Linked DNA regions of Homo sapiens. The protein of the gene in region 1 interacts with the protein of each later gene in a pairwise test. Each region holds a gene or a part of one and is shown on either strand. Other genes may lie near its edges. The genes, in order: PDE6G and L3MBTL3.

Evidence for each region.
Region 2: the proteins of PDE6G (region 1) and L3MBTL3 interact in binary tests that used the Homo sapiens proteins (3 or more experiments, as listed by UniProt).

What each region holds. Positions count from the first base shown.
Region 1 is NC_000017.11:81,649,919-81,653,820, forward strand, and holds the end of PDE6G (retinal rod rhodopsin-sensitive cGMP 3',5'-cyclic phosphodiesterase subunit gamma), read right to left. Parts: intron 3,809-3,902; exon of another isoform or gene 3,740-3,808; intron 3,447-3,739; 5' UTR 3,388-3,446; coding exon 3,242-3,387; intron 1,768-3,241; coding exon 1,727-1,767; intron 1,233-1,726; coding exon 1,156-1,232; 3' UTR 541-1,155; downstream 1-540.
Region 2 is NC_000006.12:130,066,953-130,070,770, reverse strand, and holds part of L3MBTL3 (lethal(3)malignant brain tumor-like protein 3), read right to left. Parts: intron 2,442-3,818; coding exon 2,350-2,441; intron 1-2,349. UniProt on the Homo sapiens protein: Is a negative regulator of Notch target genes expression, required for RBPJ-mediated transcriptional repression. It recruits KDM1A to Notch-responsive elements and promotes KDM1A-mediated H3K4me demethylation.

The DNA.
Region 1 (3,902 bases):
ACAGACAGGGTCTTGCTATGTTGCCCAGGCTGGTCTTGAACTCCTGGACTGCAGTGATCCTCCCGCCTTGGCCTCCTAAAGTGCTGAGATTATAGGCATGAGCCACTGTGCCCAGATACAGCCAGTTTTAGTGGGCACTGTCTAAGGACGAGCTGGCTGGGTGCTCTGGGGGAGTTGCTAGTGTCACTGTGCCTCAGTTTCTCTCTTGTGAGGTGGGAGTAGGAGCTCCGGCCTCACGGCGTGTGGTGTAAGCCATGTCCAGTCTCACCTTCTCTGTGTGGCCTGTTCCAGCCACCTGCATGCTTCATTGACTATGGCCCCTGGGTGTGCACCAAGGCCTTCTGCCTTGACCCAGCCATGGCCTGACATTGCGTGTCTTGGGGCCACCAGCAAGGCTCAGTGAGAGTGTGAGCCCAAGGGCTGTCTTCCCACTCAGGCAGGCCAGCCCCTCCTGCCCCACTGCCCACCCCTTCCCCCATGTGCTCCGGCTCAAGTGACCCCACCACAGGCCCTGTCCCATGCACAAATATGCCACAGACAGGCAAGGACACACTAATTTTATTTTGAAATAGGGACTGCAAGGGCAGGCTGTATTGAGAAGGATGGCCCCCTGGTGTGATGAGCTTGGGGCCTCATCTGCTCACCGTGCACGCCCTGGAGTCCTGCTACCCAGCATGTCCAAACTAAGGGCACCCCCCTGGGAAGGGATGCAGAGACGGGGAGCTTCTCTGTATCCCCTTACAGGCAGGACAGGGGGCTGGGGTGCAGAAGCACTCTGGGGAGACCTGCCCTAGCTTTCCAGCTGGGAGGAGGGGACGATCTGGGGTCCAGCAGGCTCCCGGGCTGGGGTCCACTTCCCGTTCTCCCTGGGAGTGGAGACCGACCAAGCCTCTCTGTGGGCAGGACTGAGGGGTGGGCCTGTATCTCCAGATGTTGAGCAGGGCCTGGCCAGCCCCTGAGGGGGCATCCTAGAGGGAGGTGGTGGGCTCCTGGTGACTGGTATTAATATGTAGGGGGAGACCTGAGGTTGCAGTCCCATCCTGGTGTCCAGGTGCCATCTGGGCTAGGGAGGCATCTCCTCAACAGGAATCCTGAGCAGGGTTTAGAGCACAGTGGGCAGGAGGGGGAGGGTCTGGACTTCAGCAGGGCCTCGTGCTAGATGATGCCATATTGGGCCAGCTCGTGCAGCTCCAGGTGGTTGAAGGCCTCCCAAGGGCAGATGACTGTGATGTCTGTGGGAGAAACGGGCCACGGATCAGAGAGGATCCCACGGCCTAGGGACCCCCCCATCCCCTGTGGCCCTGTTTCCCACAGCCCAGGTGTAGCCCTACAGTGTGCTGAGCGGGGACGTGCGGACGCTGGAGTGGGGCCCTCCTCTGGGGACACACTGGCTGTGGGGGAAGGAGGGTGGGTGCAGCAGGTCCAGGGGAGGGAACCAGAGGAGGGTGGGGCTTGCTGAAGGGGGAGGAGGCAGCGAGGGGTTCTGTTCTTTCCCAAACCCCTCCCCTCACCTGGTGCAAGTGTCCCAAATGGGGACAGCCCCACCCTCTAGATCCAGTGGATCTGGAGCTCAGTGTTGGGGGAAGAAGTGATGGACAGGCTGGGGGTCCCTAAGTGAAAAGCAGGGGAGGTGGGGGCCGAGGTGGGCTGCAATGGGCCCCGGGCGTGCTGGGTGTGCCTGGGGGGACCTGGGCAGACCTCGGGTTGGTACTGGCAGCCGTCATACCTGTTCCCAGGCCTTCCATTCCAGGGATGTCGTCCCCAAACCTGCAAGGACAGAGCACTCAGGGACATGGCCGGGCCCAGTCCTGGCTCAGTCAGCCTGAGGCCCGAGGTCATCTCTAGCCTTCCTAGGAGATGAGGTGTTTGGCTGGGAGCCCAGTGGGCAGAGACCCGCCTCCTCCCCAACCTCCCAGGGCTTGGCGCATCTGAGGAGGCTTCCCTCACAGACCCAGGGTGAGTCTGCTGCCCAGAGCATCATGGGGCTGAGGCCTAGAAAAGGAGGTGCAAGTCCCAGGATGCTGGGCAGGTGCGTGCCCTGGGGGAGTACGGGGGGGTGCGTGGTTGGTGCATGGTCTGAGTGTAGATTTGTGAAGGTGGCTTGTCTGTGAGTGTGCCTCACGTGCATATGTGGAGGTGTGAGCGTGTTTGTGCATAAGAGTGTCATGCCCGTGTGTGCGCACACGTGTGAGTGGACACTCCTCGGTGCGTTGATGGGAGCGCGGTGCCTGTGTGCGCACACGAGTGAGTGGACACTCCTCGGTGCACTGATGGGAGCGAGATGCCCGTGTGTGCGCATGTGTGAGTGGACACTCCTCGGTGCATTGTGCCATGGCTGTCCCTGGGTGGCAGTGGTTGTATTTTTTTTATTTATTTGAGACGGAGTCTCACTCTGTCGCCCAGGCTGGAGTGCAGTGGCGTGATCTCGGCTCACCGCAAGCTCTGCCTCCCGGGTTCACACCATTCTCCTGCCTCAGCCTCCCGAGTAGCTGGGACTACAGGCGCCCGCCACCACGCCCGGCTAATTTTTTGTATTTTTTAGTAGAGACAGGGTTTCACCTTCTTAGCCAGAATGGTCTCGATCTCCTGACCTCGTGATCCGCCCGCCTCGGCCTCCCAAAGTGCTGGGATTACAGGCATGAGCCACCGCCCCCGGCCGTTTTGTTTTTTTGAGACGGAGTTTTGTTCTTCTTGTTGCCCAGCCTGGAGTGCAATGGCGCGATCTCAGCTCACCACAACCTCTGCCTCCTGGATTCAAGCGATTCTCCTGCCTCAGCCTCCTGAGTAGCTGGGATTACAGGCGTGCACCACCACGCCTGGCTAAATTTGTATTTTTAGTAGAGACAGGTTTCTCCATGTTTGTCAGGCTGGTCTCAAACTCGCGATCCTAGGGGGCTACTTTGGCAGGTATTAAAACTTTTTTTTAGGCCGGGCGCGACCTCAGGTGATCTGCCCACCTCAGCCTCCCAAAGCGCTGAGCCACCGCGCCTGGCCGGCAGTGGCTGTATTTTCAAGCATGGTTGGCAGTAGCATCTGGAGCGGGTGACAGGAGCCCCCAATTCCCCTTCCCCCTCCTCCATCCCTGCTCAGGCCCTCAGGCACCGCCCTACCTTCCCCAGCTGTGAGGCTGGGACCACTCACCCAGTGAAGTGGCCCCAGGCTCTGCCCCGCCCTCCCCTTCCTGTGCAGCCTCAGGACCGCCTCCTCCCTTTCAGAGGCCCCATCCCCCAGCTCTGCTTACCCTTGAACGCCTTTCTTTGGGGGCTTGCTCTTGAACTGCCTGGTCTGTCGCTGCTTAAATTTAGGGGGCCCTTTCCTGGGGGTGACAGGTCCCCCGGCCACCCTGGTGGCTGACCGGAACTCAGCCTTGGGCGGTTCCAGGTTCATGGTGAGGCTGACGGAGACACCGCGGCAACCTTGGCTCCTGGACTCCCTCCTGCTGCGGTCTGGGGGCAGACCAGGCCCGGGTCCCAGTCAGCCCTCCTGCTTCCAACCCTTGTGGGGGTCTCAACCCACCGGTGGAGGGGCTGAGACCCAGCCCCGCCAGCTCCAGCGTCATCCAGACAGCAGCCCCTGCAATCCGCCCTGGGGTAACCAGCCTGCCAGCTTTGCTTGGGTCCACCCGCACGCTCCCATTCCCCTTGCCTAGTGGATGCCCCCCTGCAACGCTGGCCACACACAGCTCCGGACTCCCCCCTGTCCTGGCCTCCCTCGCCCCGGCCCACAATCCACAGCAAACCTAGCCTCCCAACCTGTGGCAGGTCCTGAGCCTGGAGTCCTCACCACCTCCCTGTGGGTGACCACTGACAACTTCCTGCCCCTTCCCCTGCGTTCCCCACCCCAGGGAAGCGTGACTCCCGTCGGCATTTAACTGCTACTCTGGGTTTTTTTTTGTTTTGTTT
Region 2 (3,818 bases), on another chromosome or scaffold:
CACCCAATTAGCTATCTGGGCCTCAAAACGAAAATATCCATCACCTCACAGAATTTAAAATAATTAATTTTAACATGTGTTTTGATGCCTTAATTAGAAAACTGTAATAGGTAGGCAAGTTTTATTCACCATATAGTTCACATTTTATCCTTCTTTTCTTGATTACAGACTTAACAATGAAAATTATTCACACAAAATATGCACTTAATCAAGTTAAAAATGTGCATGAGTCAGTACAAATTCACTCCCACTTCCGAAAATATCTCTCAAAAGAGTACTCTCGAAAGTAGGTCATCTTCATATATGAAAGGCTGCAAATTATTACAACTTTTACTCAACACTACAGATATATTTTATTCCTAATAGCAGCAAAAGAATTGGCTGTTGATGTACAAAGCTATTCAAAATAGTTGGTAACTTAAAGAAATCCACAGATAACCAGTCATTCAGAACATGGAACAAAAACAATGAAAGTTCTGTAAGAGTTAGTGCTTAAGGTACAGTAATATATAAAATCTCTTACAATCTTTTGTGAGGAATAATATCTTAATCTATCTATCTCTACATATTATAGACTAGTATATCTAGATACCAATTATGCAAATCACAACACACTACAAGTCATTCCTTCCCTAAAAACAAAACAAAACAAAACAAAAAACAAAAAACAAACAAAAACCTCTGTTAGACTCAATTATACAGATATTATTCTAACTACTTTAGGCAAAATAAATGCTATCTCTCATTTTACTATAATTATACAACTATCATTGCAAAAATGTAGACAGCCGTGTATCTGAAAATGTTAGAATAAGTTGTGTCTGAATGGATAGAACAGGCACTAATGCTATACAGAAATCTTTACTATGCATTTAAGTACTGAAATTTATCCGAGTTCTGATCATAAATGTTTGAGTATTCTGAGGTAATCTAGAAATGGAAAAATTAATTGTCTCTTAGATACGAAATGGAGAGCCCAAGATTAAGTTGTATGCTGGCAATGCATAGAATTTAGGAAGACCGTTCAAGGCAGTTAATCAAATCCCTGACTGAAGTCATCATCAGAGAACCAGACAGGGATTAGGAAACTTGGAGCAGAGACAGCAGGCTGCTAAGTTTTCCACCCAACTGACCTTCCTCCCTGGGATAAGTTTTGACAGAGAATACCAACTGACAATGCACTGTTACACTTTGGCAATTACACTATCCTCTCAATTAAGATGTTTTAAAATAATAAGCTGGCCCATTAACACTATTACTAACCTAAACACACATACGCATGCACACAAACACAATGTGTCAGTTCTGTAATCCAACCTGGTTTGTGTTTGATTAAATCAGAAAACATTTCAGCCATTAGATTGATGCTCTCAAACCAACTGGTTAACACTGTTTCCCAAATGAAGGATTTTTGGAGTGAGGAGGTTTCTCCTGCTCTTGATATTTATTTATTTCCATTTGAAGGGAATGCTGTTAGTGAAACATTACTGCTTCTCCCCACTGTCTCACTCACTGCTACCAGCCTGGTGACTCTGGAAAGGAGGAACTGATCATACTAGAGAGAAAGCTGGGCTGCAGGGTGCACAGTTTCCACTCTGCTCCTCAAGGGTCTAGTGTTCTCCAGGCTTGGGGGATGGGCGTGAAAGGCGAATTAAATCTCTTCCATTCTAGGGCTCAGAATCAAGCTTATTTGTCTGCAGATACAAGCCATGCACGTCCTCCAACTCAGCTCTGACCATCTGTAAAGATGGCATTTTGGTTTTCCACTGGCTTGCCCTTTATTCTTTCCAATTAGATCAGAACTTGGGAAAAGAAAAATGTCATGGATCAAGTCGGCCAATGGAGGAACATGTTATGGAAAGCAGGAATACCGGTCAAGTAGAAAAGACACGCACATCCAGATTTTGTTTTTGTTTACTGTAAACAAAGCTATAAGCTAGAGTGAAGATATGTCACAGTCTCCAGTGACCTCCTACATGTAAACTGAAACAGGGCTACCTTCATCTGGCTATGTGAATCCCATTTGAACAGCACTCCCATATAAGTGATAATAACAATAAAATATCTCAGCCAATTTAATTTTTTATGCATCTTAATTGTAAATCTCACCTGAATCTTGTACTATCTTGTCTTCTACTATGCAATAAAAGAGACAACCATAATATGGCTATAAAACATATTTGTTCATGAAGATTTTAAGCTAATTTTAAACTTTAATTAAGATAAGAGTACTCTATTTACCAAGGCGATAAAATTTATTATAGTTCCTTGTTATCACTTGTAATTGATCCTATGAGACACTCAAAAAACTTCTTCCTTTGAAAGAAAACGTGTTTCGTATGTACTTACTATATTCTGATTTTCAAATAATGACTTAGGAGCAGCTTGAGCTTTACATGTCTTAAGATAGGTCTGCCAATTGAATTCTTCTTCTTTATACCCTAGAGTAAGCACATATGAACAGATTGATTCAAATACCACAATATTTTACACTTAGTTTTCCAGTCCCACTTTTATCTCTAACATGCCAAAATCAATCAAATGACTTTTTAAATAAACAAAATTTAACTCATAATTCATAACTATGCATATTTAGACTATGTTTATTTTCAACAAACTGTATTATTATTTTCCAATTCTGAATGAATGGTAATGGATATAAAGAAAAGGAATAAGGAAACAAATATGTATTATACCCAGGACACTTATTATCAGGGTATTTGTACCAGTATTTAGGTAGAATTCCTCAGCGGTATAGATACTGAACTACAATAGTCAAAATTCTTTATTTTTCTCTCACCTAGTCTATTTTGGGAAGACTAACTTATAGGAACAAGTGGAAAGGTGGAAATAATAGAAATGAAACAGGTAAAATCTTTTTGGCCTATCACTTCAAGAAGGACAATTTAAGGTTTATGAAGTAAGGATGCTGGCAAATTACAATAAGGGAAATGTCCTCCCCTTAATTTTTACAATTTCATTGAAGTTAACATTTCCTTTAAAAAGGAAATTGAGCATCTTATTTTATCTGCGAATATGCTTTATTTTACATTCATTAAAGTCCAGAAAGCAGCATGAAAAAACCAGCTAATAATTTACCATATATAAGAGATCAATTCGTGAAAAGGCTTACAGATTTTCTTTTTCACCCTCACTTTTTCTATGCTATTTTGTTGAATCCTTCAGCTATCTGAAAATACCACTCTGCCATTATTTTTTCACTTAAAACAAAGGGATGGCTAATGCATTAAAGCCCTGAGACAGGCCAAAAATATCAACCCAGTAACCTGAATTTTTGACATAAACAAAAATCAATGTAATGATTGAAATAGAAGGGAATAAGATATTACTAAATATGGCCGGGCACGGTGGCTTACACCTGTAATCCCAGCACTTTGGGAGGCCAAGGTGGGCAGATCACTTGAGGCCAGAAGTTTGAGACCAGCCTGGCCAACATGGTGAAGCTCTGTCTCTAATAAAAACACAAAAATCAGCCAGGCATGGTGGCAGGCACCTGTAATCCCAGCTATTCGGGAGGCTGAGGTAGGAGAATCACTTGAACCTGCTAGGCAGTGGCTGCAGTGAGCCAATATCACACCACTGCACTGCAACCTGGGCGACACAGCAAGACTCCGTCTCAAAAAAAAATTAGGGAATACTTTAGGCAGACAGTGAAAAAGACGATATCTGTTATTCTTGAACTTTGATATAAACATGAAATAGGAAAATCACTGGGGGACTATAATATAAAGTACTCAAATATAAGAAAAGTAATTGCTATGAGTTCAACCCCCCACCTAAGCCAATTTTTAGTGTTA